4 linked regions of the Homo sapiens genome follow. The protein of the gene in region 1 interacts with the protein of each later gene in a pairwise test. Each region holds a gene or a part of one and is shown in the gene's direction. Other genes may lie near its edges.

The links. The genes of interacting proteins can lie anywhere in the genome.
Region 2: the proteins of MMGT1 (region 1) and STX8 interact in binary tests that used the Homo sapiens proteins (3 or more experiments, as listed by UniProt).
Region 3: the proteins of MMGT1 (region 1) and TMEM14A interact in binary tests that used the Homo sapiens proteins (3 or more experiments, as listed by UniProt).
Region 4: the proteins of MMGT1 (region 1) and STX6 interact in binary tests that used the Homo sapiens proteins (3 or more experiments, as listed by UniProt).

The regions. Positions count from the first base shown.
Region 1 is NC_000023.11:135,960,088-135,963,988, reverse strand, and holds the end of MMGT1 (ER membrane protein complex subunit 5), read left to right. Parts: 3' UTR 1-3,401; downstream 3,402-3,901. UniProt on the Homo sapiens protein: Part of the endoplasmic reticulum membrane protein complex (EMC) that enables the energy-independent insertion into endoplasmic reticulum membranes of newly synthesized membrane proteins.
Region 2 is NC_000017.11:9,506,321-9,509,820, reverse strand, and holds part of STX8 (syntaxin-8), read left to right. Parts: intron 1-3,500. UniProt on the Homo sapiens protein: Vesicle trafficking protein that functions in the early secretory pathway, possibly by mediating retrograde transport from cis-Golgi membranes to the ER.
Region 3 is NC_000006.12:52,681,113-52,684,100, forward strand, and holds part of TMEM14A (transmembrane protein 14A), read left to right. Parts: intron 1-700; coding exon 701-802; intron 803-2,965; coding exon 2,966-2,988. UniProt on the Homo sapiens protein: Inhibits apoptosis via negative regulation of the mitochondrial outer membrane permeabilization involved in apoptotic signaling pathway.
Region 4 is NC_000001.11:180,988,371-180,991,870, reverse strand, and holds part of STX6 (syntaxin-6), read left to right. Parts: intron 1-1,761; coding exon 1,762-1,887; intron 1,888-3,500. UniProt on the Homo sapiens protein: SNARE promoting movement of transport vesicles to target membranes. Targets endosomes to the trans-Golgi network, and may therefore function in retrograde trafficking.

The DNA.
Region 1 (3,901 bases):
TCTTCAAGTTTTCCATCTTCACTGTATGTTGCTGAAAGTGAGGATGAGGATACAGAGTTGATATTTTTAGAAACAGTAATTTTACTTTTAAGGAAATTGGCTAGCTCTTTGAGCTAGAGAGCTGTAGGAAGCTCAACATTTCTTTGTAGAGAACGTTGCTTTTTTTGGATTGTACAGGTATAAAAACATTGCTTTTGTTGAATTGTATAGGTGTAAAAAGGGAATAACTGTATGCAGGTTTGAAAAGGAAATGTGCTTTAGGCATGAGTCATAAGATGCCATTGTACTTGTAGGCATTTTATTTTCCTTTAGAAATGGACATCAGCTCTTCTCTTCTGACTGGTAACACATAGCCCCAAAGCATGAGATTATTTTTCATTGGGTTTTTATTGTTGTTTAGTTTTGGTTTGTTACGCCAGCCCAGTCTGTCTGCGGAACACTGACTCTGCTCTCTAATGAGAACAAAGTTAGAAATCTGCCGATAACCTAAAATAATTTAGAAATGAATTAAAAATGTGAAATCGGGTTAAAGTGATGATGATAAAATAGCATGCAAGAAACAAGCTCCTTCCATCAGACTTGGCTACTGTTTTCTTCTGGTACGATTTGGTTTGGAAGAGCCTCTTGTTTCCTTCTCTTTGGGGTATGTCTTCGTTTCTTAATATGTTTGTAACATTATTGAGATATAATTCACATACCTTACAATTCACTTATTTTAAGGGTACAATTTAGTGGTTTTTAGTGTATTCACAAAGTTGTGTAACCGTGACCACAGTCAATTTTAGAACATTTCGTTACCCCAAAAAGAAACCCTGTACCCTTGAGCAGTCACCTCTCATTTTCTCCCAGTGCCCACCCCATCCCCGAGCCCCTGGCAACCACTAATCTATTTCTCTCTCTGTAGATTTGCTTATTCTGGTCATTTCATATAAATGGAATTCTACAATATTCGGTCTTTTGGGACTGGCTTCCCAAATATGATTTTCTATATGGAGTGAGAAAATTCTTCTCATCTTGAGAACTCTTATTGCTGTGAAAGGGAGTGGTTGGTAAAATCAATAGATTTCAGGCAAGAGGGCCAGATACCTAACAGGTTTTTCTCCGTGAATCTTATGCTGAGTAGTTTTTCCTCATAACCAAGCATTTATGATATATTACTACTTATAATACTGTGGCTAGTCTCTAGAATGGATGTTGAAATCTTTGCCTCCTCAGTCGGGAAGAGTCCTGCTAAAAATCAGGCTAAAAATCAGGCCAAAAATCAGGCCAAATGACTTGGCAAATAATTGACAAAGTGGTTTTCACGTGTGTCTATCTTTGCTAGCAGCTTGTATACCTCAGGCCAGGTGAGCTCCCCAAATTTCTTTTTTCATTTACTCCAGTGAGTTTCTGCTGTCTTTTTCAAGTATGTACCATAGGACTTAAAGGTGATTTGGATGCGTTGTAACACTGCTAAATATGCTAAGTACAGAATTTTATCTACAGTACTGTGAGACAGTCAATTATTGCCTAGGGTAGTTCAAAAATATGATGTGAGCTAGTTAAGCCTTTGCTTGACTGATTTCAGTGATATTCAGAAGTGTGTACCAATCAAGGCTCTTTAAAATACGGAACGACTCACTTAATAACCAGGGAACCAGCCAAATACTGTGCAGCCGCAGAATATGCATATCAATGAGTTGGAGGTGATTATTCTCTGTAACTCCCTAATGATTGTTTTCTAAGCATTGTGGCTTCTCAGTGGCTTGACAGCATCTTCCTGGTTGTATGTGGCCTGTTTACATGATGTATTGAATAATGTTGTTTGTTGTGAGCATCAATGCCTGTAACACCAAACTAAACACGTGTTTTTGGGATATGTTTCCAATCTTTAAATGACCTTGCCCTGTCCAATAAATAAATGATTGTCTCACCCTGTTTTTGGTAGTGTTTTTTGGGCTTTTTTTTTTTGGACTTTTAATCTCATTTCTTCTGCTTTTCTGTCCCCAGAAAAATGTAAGAGCTAATTTTATGACTGTATTTTTCTACTGTGATGCTGTTTTACTGAATTCAATGGATAATTTAATTGTACATGTAAAATCTTACTGCAGTTTTATGTTTTTAATAGTCAAAATAGAATGTATAATCTTGATGATGTTTATAAATCATCAAATGCCCTTTGGGGTGTAAAAATGGGTTCTTGAGCAGCAGTGTCTAATGATTCCATCACAAATTTGTTATAAAGCCAAACTCCCATTGAAAGTGTCACTTTATACTTAATAGGAAATCGTTATGATTAAAGCATCAAGGAAGCAAATATAAAGTTTAATGAAAATCCAAGGGGAAGTTCTAAATTGCAAAACTTGGCACTTATCTACAGTATTTTGAAAAATAACACCACCGGTATTCAAACCTACCTAGGAATATCTCAAAATAACCTGTTAATTAAGTGTTCTTAGAAAGGGGAGTGGGGGCAAGAAAGATGATGTATGCACATGGCGAAAAGATCAGATGGTACAGAAAGGTATAAAAACTTGGTCCCTTCCCTCCTACCCTAATACTCCTCTCCAAAAGTAACCAGTTTCAAGTGTCTTGTACTCACAGGAAAACAATTTTTTATTTTTTATCAGCAAATTTGTACTTTAAAAATTTCACATTAATAGAATCAGACTATATATACTCTTCTGTACCTTGCTTTTTTTGCTACCTGTGTTTTATGAGATCTTTCTGTATCAGTATATATAAAAATACCTCATTATTTTTAGCGGCTGTGTGGTATTCTAATGTTTGAATGTGTTACAAATGTTCAAACACTGATAGGCTCTTTAGGTTGTTTCCAATATTAAATCACATTGTGGTGAATATACTTGTACATATAATGAGTTTTTATTCTACAGTGTACCTAGCAATACAATTGCTGGATCAGAGGGTATTTTTTATTTTCAGTTCAGTAGTTACTGCCAAATTGTCCTCTAGAAATCTTTGCCCAGTATGCTTCCACATATAATGTATGAGAATGATTATTTACCAAACCCATGCCAATACTGGGTACTAAACTTTTGAAGTCTGATCATGTGAAAGTGAATAAATGGTATCTTGCGTTTTAATGAAGTTCTAATGCATTTTAATGAAGGTCTGGTACATTTTAATGAAGGAGATGGAACACATTTTCATGTTTATTGATTACTGATATTTCCTGTGAAATGTGTAGTCATGTTCTGTTTTCTATTAGGTGGTATGTGTTTTATTGATTTGTATGAGCTTTTTGTAAGCTAAGAAAATTGGTCCATTGTCATGTTTAATAATATTTTCCTAAGTTTTATTTATGTAGTTAAACTTAGTCTTTACAGCTTCTGAGATTTTGCCTTGCTTAGAAAGGCCACCTTTGCATTTAAGAATAAATTTAATGTATTTTTCCAGTATTTTAAAGGTTTTTTTTTCAACTTTTAAATCTTTGATTCATTTGGAATTTGTCTAGGTAGTAAGAGTGAGGAGAGGATTCAACATTTTTCTCTCCAATAGCAATCTATTCTAACCCCATTTATTAACTTTTTCAACACTGATTGGAAAAACCATCATCCTCATTCATACATCAAATTTCCATATGTCTGGTTAGATATGCTTCTGGGTTCTGTAGTCTGTTGCAAAAAATACGAGTCTTTTAATTATTTTAAATTGTTATATATTTTTGTCTTGGGTATTGCTAGTCCATACCTCATTTTTAGGAATTTTTTCTAGTTACTGCATGTTTATTTTTTTCAGATAAGCTTTCATATCATTTTGTCCAAATCTAAAATTATATTTTCCCTGAAATTTAATTTTGAAAAATTTCAAATCTACAGAAAATGTGAAAGAAAATAGGATGGACACCAGTATACTTTTCATTTAGGTTCACCATTTTTAACATTTTACCACTGTTGCT
Region 2 (3,500 bases), on another chromosome or scaffold:
ATGTCTTTTAATGAGATATTTAATTCACTTACATTCAAGGTTATTATTAATAGGTGAGGACTTATCTTGTCATTTTATTGTTTTCTGGCTGTTTTCTATATCCTTTGTTCCTTACTTCCTCTTACTGTTTATTTTTGTGGTTGGGTAGTGTTCTGAAGTGATAAGGCTTGATTTCTTTCTCTTTTTCCTTTGTATATTGGCTCTACCAGTGAGTTTTATAGTGTCACATGTTTTTATAATGGCTGTTATGATCTTTTCACTTCCAGATGTAATACTCCCTTGAGCACTTCTTGTAAGACTGGTCTAGTGGTGATGGATTACCTTCGTTTTTGCTTGTCTGTGAAAGATTTTATTTCTCTTTCATTTCTGGAGGATATCTTTGCTGCATGTAATATTCTTGGTTGGCAGATTTTTTTTTTCTTTTAGTACTTTGAACATAAAATCCTATTCTCTCTTGGTTGGTAAGATTTCTGCTGAGAAATCTGCTATTAGTCTAATGGGAACTCCCTCATAGGTGATTTGATGCTTTTCTCTTGCTGGTTTCTTTTTGTCATTGTTGTTTGTTTGTTTTTGAGATGGAGTCTTGCTCTGTTGCCCAGGCTGGAGTGCAGTAGCGTGGTCTCAGCTCACTGCAACCTCCGCCTCCCAGGTTCAAGTGATTCTCCTGCCTCTGCCTCCTGAGTAGCTGGGATTACAGGCACCTGCCACCATGCCCAGCTAATTTTTTTGTATTTTTAGTAGAGACAGAGTTTCACCATGTTGGCCAGGCTGGTCTTGAACTCCTGACATCGTGATCTGCCAGCCTCGGCCTCCCAAAGTACTGGGATAACAGGCATGAGCCACCACATCCAGTCCTTCTCTTGCTGTTTTTAGAATTCTTTGTCTTTGACTTTTGATAATTTGACTCTAATGTGCCTAAGAGGGGTCCTGTTTGAATGGAATCTATTTGGGATTCTTTTAGCTTCCTGGATCTGGAAGCTCCCAAGACTTGGGAAGTTTTCAGCTACTATTTCATTCAATGTTTTCTGTACATTTGCCCTTCTTTTCTCTTTCTGGAACACCTACAGTGTGAATATTTGTTCACTTAATAGTGTCCCATGAATTCTGTAGGCTTTCTTCATTCCATTTTACTTTTTCTTCCCCCCATCTTTCTGTGTTATTTCACAAGATCTGTCTTCAAGTTCAAAAATTCAGCCACGCATGGTGGCTCACACCTGTAATCCTGGCACTTTGGGAGGCCAAGGCGGGCAGATCACTTGAGATTAGGAGTTCGATACCAACCTGGCTAACATGGTGAAACCCCATCTCTACCAAAAAATACAAAAATTAGCTGGATGTGATGGCATGCCCCTGTAGTCCCAGCTACTCAGGAGGACTGAGGAGGGAGAATCACTTGAGCCCAGGAGGTGGAGGTTGCAGTGAGCTGAGATAATGCCACTGCACTCCAGCCTGGGTGACAGAGTAAGAACCTGTCTCCAAAAAAATAAATAAATAAAATTCTGCTTGGTCTAGTCTTTTGGTAAAGCTCTAGCTTGTACTTATTTACTTATTCATTGAATTCTTCCACTCCAGGATACCTGTTTTGTTCTTTTTTATGGTATTTATCTTCTTGTTGAATTTCTTGTTCAAGTCATGAATTGTTTTCCTGATTTCATCAAATTGTCTAGCTCTATTATCTTGTATCTCACTGTAAGATTACTATTTTGAATTCTTTTTCTGTCATTTTGTATATTTCTCTATCATTGGGGTCTATTACACAGGAATTATTGTATTCCTTTGGAGGTGTCATGTTTCCTTGCTTTTTCATGTTCGATGTATCCCTATGTTGATGTCTATGCATCTGGTGGAATAATTGCCTCTTCCAATTTTATGTGGTAGGTTTTGCAGGGAAAGAAATATTTGTATGAATGGATCTTGGGGTGTTGGTTCAGTGGGATGCATTGGCTTTGGTTCCAGGTGGGCATAGTAGTGTAGTTTTTGTGTAGTTTCTTTAACTGTAATCCATGCCAGTGACATTTGTGAGTGTCTCAGTGGCCTCAGCTGAGAGGCTTTGTGGTGGTGGTGGCATGACTTTGCCAGGGATGTGTTCACCGGGCTATTTGTCAGGTCAGCGATGCATGCGTTCACATGGTGGGTTGTCCAACTTGGGGTCTCACTTGCTGGGGTTGGGGTTGGTGCCCTTACTCTGGCTGAGGGCACAGTTGCTTGGTTGCTTGGCCAGTCTGGGAGTATGCCTGCCAGAGGTGGCCTGTTGGGCTGTTTCTCAGGTTTGGGACATGGGCACACTGCTGCTCAGCTCTCCTGTGGGGAATGCCTGCTGGGGACAGCCTACAGGGCTATTTCTCAGGCATGAGAGGTGGGCATAAGTCTGCTTGATGGCCCCGGGGGCATGTCTGCCAGGAGTGGCCTGAGGAGTTGCTTCTCAGACCCGGGATATGAACACAAGGCTGCTCGGCTGGCCTAGGGGAGTTGCCGCTAGGGGTGACCCATGGGCTGTTTTTCAGGCCTGAGATATGGACACATGGCTACTTGGCTGGCCTGGGGGTATGTCTGCCAGGGGCAGCCTGCAGGGTTGTTTCTCAGGCCCTGATTGAGGTGTGGGGCCTTTGGGCAGGCCGGGGGCATGTCTGTAGGGGGCTGCACTGCCCGACTGTTTCATAGATCCGGGATGCAGGAGCGTAGTCACTCTGCTAGCCTGTCAGTTGCTCAGGGCCTTCTGCTTGCAGGAGGGTATGCAGCAGTTTGGTTGGCTCAAGAGTGGGTTTGCCCTGGGTGGGACTGTTTCTGTGGCTGAAAGTGCAGAGGGTGGTTTCCCTTCATTGCAGGACCAGAGTCACAGCCATTCCCGAGCCCTGGGTTGTGGAGTTCAGCCACCTGTGTAGCTTTGGTGGCATGAAAATGGAGTCCCAGTGCTGGAAAGGTGCAGTGGCTACTGGCCCCAAGAGGAAGGCACACTCCAGAGGGAGCTGTGGTCTAAAGATGGCGCCATGCTGTAGTAACTTGGCTCATGGAGTGGGTGGGGAGTGGGGAATGCTCCTAATCTGGGGCAGTGCAACTGTACGAATTCCCAGCAGCTCTCCAAACTGGGCTCAGAACTTGCAAGGACTGGGGGATCCTCCTGTAATAAGGACTGTAGGTGTTTGCAGTGGCAGTGGGGGCAGGTGGGAATCTCCCGCTTACCTTTTCCTCACAGGGAGAAGGCCTTCATATGTCCAGGCCTCCTCAGTCCTGGTGGAAGAGATGGGGCCACAGAGGCTGGGGGCCTTCATGCTGCCCTCCTAGACTTTCAGTCACCACAGGGGCCTCTCCACTTCCCCACTGCAGTTCAGCACTTTCCCACACTGAAGTCAAATCTTAGCTGTTTATTCATTGCCTTAGTCCTTTCCTAAGAAAGGTGGGTGGGGGGGGGGGGGAGCGGGTGAGCACCAGCTGACTCTAATCAGTCATCTTGCTGATGTCCCACCCATCATTTATTCTATGATTTTTCATGAATCTGTTGA
Region 3 (2,988 bases), on another chromosome or scaffold:
GTCACTGCCATGTAACCCACTGTCCAGTGCACAGAAAGTGCTTGGTGTTTGCCACAGTGCTCTGGGGTGGGTATGTGGGTTGGGGGCTGGGAGTGTACTGGTGGGGTGAGTGCATGGGATAGGGACTGGGTAGCTGGGGTCAGTATTCTGATTCTTCGTCTTTCTTGGTAGGGCCTCTATTAGTCCTTGAGTCCTGACATCTTGAGGCATGAAGGTTTGTTAATTATTCAGGATGGAACCATTGCTTGGTTTGTATAGCACTTCTGTCTTTACCTCTATAAACTAAAACTACCTTTGCATCTTAGTTTTTATCATCACAACCTCATTGCAAAAAGGAGGCAAAGAGAATAGGAAAAATTAAAAAAGAAGGGCTTAAGGAAGTTAAATAATTGTCCAAGATCATGTAATCAGTGTCCAAGCCACCAGAACAAGGCAGGTTTTCTTATTTCCCCAAGTGACATCTAACCCCACTGCACTGCTGTGCCCTCAGGGCTCCTCTGCCTTGCATTTGGGTTCAGCAGGAAACAGTCATCTCCTAGAAAGTATCCATGAAGAGGCCTATTCTTAATTTGGCTTTGTCCAGTTACTGTGCCCAAGTAGGAATACATTTGAAGGTGCCTGTATCATACTAGAAGTAATGGAATGAATTCCTTTCCTTTTGGGATTCTCTTTGTGATCTCATATTTTTTTCCCCTTCCAGGTGGTGTTCCGTCTTTGATTGCTGGTCTTTTTGTTGGATGTTTGGCCGGCTATGGAGCTTACCGTGTCTCCAATGACAAACGAGATGTAAAAGTGTCACTGTGTAAGTAAGGCATTTTTCCTGGTTACAGAGACTCAAACATTGGAGGTGATCTTTTTGATACCCTATGCTAGATATACTAGAACATATTTAGTCAAATGGCAAATGGCCATATGCATGTGTTGAGGCTGAATACAACACTTATTCCTTTCTAGAAAGACCTGATAAAAAATGATGGTACTGCTACCAGGCCTTCCAACTCAGAAGAATATTTCTATAAAAACTCGTTACTAGAAAAATTGAATTAGGAAAAGCAAGGAATTATTTTCAGATTTTCTGCTAACTCTCCTAAATGCATATTTAGCATAGTTTTTACATTGCTGTGGAAATAACTAAAAAAGAGACAGCCTTGCATTATTTCATTTAATTCACAAACATCTTTTAGATTCTGCACTGCCTTAAGACTTAACCTAAAAAAGCAAGGCTGACGCTTTTTTAGCTACTTCCCTTGTTAAGTTTAATGGGAGAATATCCACAGAAAAAATGGAAACCTGTGTGTTTAAAGTCACCAGGACACTTGACTTTCATCTCACTTGAAAGAGATACACAGTGAAGATTTAGAAAACCATACCAAGGACATTTTCTCTAGTTGATTTATTATTCAAAGTGCCTTGGTCGTGTATGGAAAAAAATATAAATGAAGACAAAATTGTTCTATATTTGAAGGAGAGTGAGAGATTTGGGGTTTTTTTTTTTTTTTAGTTATTTTTATAAGGGGCTAGGGATATTTTTAGTAATGAGGTTGTGTTAGATGTATCAGCCAGATGTAGTGATATTAGGATTTTTATTGATATGCATTTAAATAGTTCACAAGTATTTATTGTCAGTCATTTTATTTTTTATATCAATAAACAGTTTTTCTTTGAAAGCTGTTTTTAAATTGTGGCATTGATGTCCTAATCTCTTACATAAAACTACCTCTCCCTTCATAGATACAGCTCCAAAAAGGCTGACATGATGCTTCTGAATAAAATACTATTGCTTAGACTATTATTTAGTCTCCAGGCATCAAATTCTCCAAAATGGGATGCTACAAAACAAAACCAATCAGCCTTCTTTTTAGTATTTTTTTTTTATTAATCAGATCTTACTTGTAAAAGATACATTAACTATTTTCTTTATATTCAGTTAACTGAACATTAATGAGTGTCTCCTGTGGGTCCAAGTGTGCTACTTAGTGTTTCTGAGGGAAGTTGAATAAAGCTCAGTGCTAGCCTTCAAGGCGTGTTCTTTGAATAGAAATTTAGGTTAGAAAAAGACTTTCTTAGCTAGGCATGGTGGCTCATGCCTGTAATCTCAGCACTTTTGGAGGCTGAGGCCGGTGGATCACTTGAGGCCAGGAGTTCAAGACCAGCCTGGCCAACATAGCAAGACCCTGTCTCTACTAAAAGTACAAAAATTAGCTGGATGTGGTTGTACATGGCTGTAATCTCAGCTACTCGGGAGGCTGAGGCAGGAGAATTGCTTGAACCCGGGAGGTGGAGGTTGCAGTGAGCTGAGATCACGCCACTGTACTCCAGCCTGGGTGACAGAGCAAGACTCTGTCTCAACAACAACAACAACAACAACAACAAAAAAAAAAAAAAGAAAAAGAAAAGGTCTTTCTCTTTTGAAGATATTTCAGGAATGGATTTTAACATGTTTGTTTACCCAGAAACCTTTTCGGCGAGGTAGATGATGATGAAGTGTTTCTTTGTTTGTTCTTTTGTTGTTTTTTTGAGACAGAGTTCGCTCTTGTTGCTCAGTCTGGAGTGCAGTGGCGTGATCTCAGTTCACCACAACCTCTGCCTCCCCGGTTCAAGCAATTCTCCTGCCTCAGCCTCCCGAGTAGCTGGGATTACAGGCATGTGCCACCATGCCCTGCTAATTTTTTTTGTATTTTTAGTAGAGACGAGGTTTCTCCATGTTGGTCAGACTGGCCTCAAACTCCCAACATCAGGTGATCCACCCATCTCTGCCTCCCAAAGTGCTGGGATTATAGGCGTAAGCCACTGGCCCGGCCATGAAGTGTTTTAATAGAGCACTTTATCTTTTCAAGACAATGGCAACTCAGTACCTATCCATAATAGTTGTAATGTTAGAAAGCTTTAAATGGTACCCGCTGTTTTCCCACAAGCATTGATAACATGTTTGAAACTCTGGTTCATGAATTAGTTTGGTTTTCAGTTACAGCTTTCTTCCTGGCTACC
Region 4 (3,500 bases), on another chromosome or scaffold:
TGGAATTTTGTTTTAGGCTATGAGTGAAATGTCAAGTTGCAAATTTTCAAGGAATAGCAGGATCAGGGCTCTCTAAGCACTCCAGCAGGCATGGGCCTTGCCACGTTGTGCCAGGTGCCAGGCTCTGTGCTGCTCCTTGCCTCACCAGCACCCCTGCTCTGGCACCCACACACAGGTGCATCTTCCAGTCCTTGGGCCCTCTCTCAATCTCTATCCTATTATCACAAACATTTGGGATCAGACTGATGAACTTTAAGCTATTTCACAATAAAACGTGGATGATTTGCCCTATACTTAGCTCTACCTAAGTGTACACCATGGAAAACGTAGGAAAAATAGCCCTGTGACCTCAGGAGCACACAAGGCCCTGGTGGTGTCCCAGTTCTCTGTCCTTAGGCCAGTGATGCATTATAGCATTTTTCTGACCCTAAAAAAATTGTCACTATTTCCTCATGTCTTCCATAGAGGTCCTTAGAGTGTGGATCATAATGAGCAGGATCTTTTCAGTCTTGATAGCCCTAAGACCAGGTCAGGGCAGAGCCACCCACAAAAAGCCTTGGATCTGCTTTACACCAGAGACAGTCACCATCCAGCTGGACTGAAGCTCTGGGCCCCTGGAAGCTCTTGTAAGAAAAGCTTCTAATAACTGAGCTTCCCTGATCCTAGCCCCTGAAGTCTGGCCATTTGATGGAGTTCACCCCTCGCAGTCTGAGAAGAGGTCAGTGTCAGTATGGAGGAAGGTCATGGGGCTGTTGGAAGGGTTTTCAGACAGAACCAAGTAACCAGGCAGGCTTTTAATAGTGCCTGAGATTTTTTTTAAATTACCCGATAGGAAAATTTGGCAACTCTACAAGGAAAAAGAGTCTTAGTTGCTAGCGTCTTCTGGCTCTTGCCTGCGGGGCTGGTGTGAGCAGTTACTTTGACCAGTCAGGAAGGCTTGTGGGGATCTGGTCAGAACCAACTGCTGAGATGGAACTCTCACATTCCTGCCTGTCTTCTTCATGTGAGGAAGACATACCCATTTATGGCTGCAAACTTCCTTGAATTCATACTTGGGAAACCCGACCCTTGTGTCTGGGAGCCCTGGTGGAGAACTCTGACTTTAGGGCAGCCCTTGCCTCGGTTGCCAGGGTCAGGCATTCCTTGTGGTCATACCTGCCTGTAAAGTAACCCCCAGTTGTCATCTGGAAAGCCTGAAGGACCCTGGATTCTATTCATGGGTTAAACTTAACAGACATTGATGGTTCTTGTGCCTTTGTGTGTGAAGGGCTATGGCTTACCTTCTTGTCATTCCAGGGAACTCTCCCTTTCCCCCCACCAAAAAAACCCACAACTTCCCCTGGGTCACACTTTTTTTAAAAAAGTACTCTAGATCTTCGGAATCAGGTTGACTGGAACCTATGGGTTGCTGAAGTTCCACAGGTACCAGGAAGAGCTCTTTTACAAGAGATTGAATGCTTTTCAATTATAACACAGTATATAGATGGGTGTTTGTTGATTTAGCAGACGTTTATTTGCACTTTAAGGGGACAAAGCCCATTGTGAGGCCTATTGGGAGAGCTTAAAGACATAGAGGGCCCTTCCTGGAATTCCTTAAATAGTACCACCCAGGCACCAACCTACACCACTACATAAAAGCCTTGCCCAGGGGAAAATAGACAAGAAATGTGAAAACTCTTTATATCACTCTTGATGCATCACTTGTTCAGAGATAGTAATTGTTTGTTTCTCCTGACTCCTCTGGTTGTTCTTCTCACACAGGCACTGCTGGGAGACAGTGGCAGCCAGAACTGGAGCACTGGAACAACAGATAAATATGGGCGTCTGGACCGAGAGCTCCAGAGAGCCAATTCTCATTTCATTGAGGAGCAGCAGGCACAGCAGCAGGTACCCCAAGGACCCCAGACTTAGGACGGGCCAGTGGGAAACAAGACACCCCCTTAGTTCCTTTGCCAGCCATGGGGTCTTGTGGCTTAGTGACAAGGAGGGTAAGCCAGAGCTTGTCCTGTGTTGATTGTGTTTAATAATTGCATATGTAAAGGGTTTCAAAATCTTCACAGTGTGACTGCTTCAAGAGAACCAAGCTCAGCCAGGCGTGGTGGCTCACACCTTTAGTCCTAGCTACTGAGGAGGCTGAGGCTGGAGGATCCTTGAGCCCAGGAGTTCAAGGCTACAGTGAGCTTCGATCATGCCATTGCATTCTAGCCTGGGTGACAGAGCAAGACCCTTTCTCTAAAAAAATAAAGAACCAAGCTCAGTTAGTTCTCTTAGAAAAAACAGACCTTTGTCCATCTCAGCAAAGACACTTTCAGAAAGATCTCTCATTTTTTTCTTCGAAAATTATTGATTGGTTTCTTTTTTTTTTTTTTTTTTGTGAGACGGAGTCTCACTCTGTCACCCAGGCTGGAGTGCAGTGGCACCATCTCGGCTCACGGCAACCTCCGCCTCCCGAGTTCAAGCAGTTCTCCTGCCTCAGCCTCCTGAGTAGCTGGGACTACAGGTGCACGCCACCACGCCCAGCTAATTTTTTTTTTGTATTTTAGTAGAGACGGGGTTTCACCTTGTTTCTCAGGCTGGTCTCGAACTCTTGAGCTCAGGCAATCCACCTGACTCAGCCTCCCAAAGTACTAGGATTACAGGCATGAGCCACCGCGCCCGGCCTATTGGTTGGTTTTGTTATATGTAAAGATGACTGCTTTTGTGTAGGTTAAGGGGTAGAAGGAAAATGAAATTGATTATGTCTGTTGATGCCTTTGATATGTAGCTGTATTAATAAAAGCAAGCTAATGATAATGTGTCTGGGGATTTGAGGAGCATGTACCCATTGAAACTATTGATTCTTAAATATTGTGTTTTATGTATACATGTAGTTTATATGTTCTTTTGTTCTTTACATTAGTATGTCTGCTTAACCAGTTGTCTACTTAAATTGCTATTAAACCCAGGAAATTTTTTTTCTATAGAAAGTGAGAAGAATGCAACACAACTAAAAGTAAATATTTGTCAGTCAGTAGTTGTCCTTGAGGTAACTTATTGCCACAGGGAATCCTTTCGTTTGTCCTTGAAGAGAGAGGAAAGACTGCATAGTTTCCCCACATCCAGAGATTTGCCAGACTCTCTTGTATTTAAGCTGTGGCAGTCTGTTGTGGATTGAGACCTTGATCTTGGCAATGGGCTTCCTCCTCCCAAACATCCCCATGTCTCAATGGTCATCTGCACGTGTGCTTTCAACCATTGTCTGCTCCATTATTGGACGTCAGCCAACCAGAGTAAATCTCTCTTGGTGGTTTCAAGCCCCGCTGACTGTTCACAAGTTGGATCAGCAGGAGATATCAGTAGCTTAACAATCCAGCCTTTTGAGCAGTGTGTTCTCAGAGGCAACGGTCTGGTCCTTTGATTTCTGGGCTTTGCTTCTGAATGTGAATTGTCCCAAGTTGGCAAAGAAACTAGCAGCTGCTAGAGTGCTGGGCTTGGAACCAGGTAAGATGGATTTTAATTGC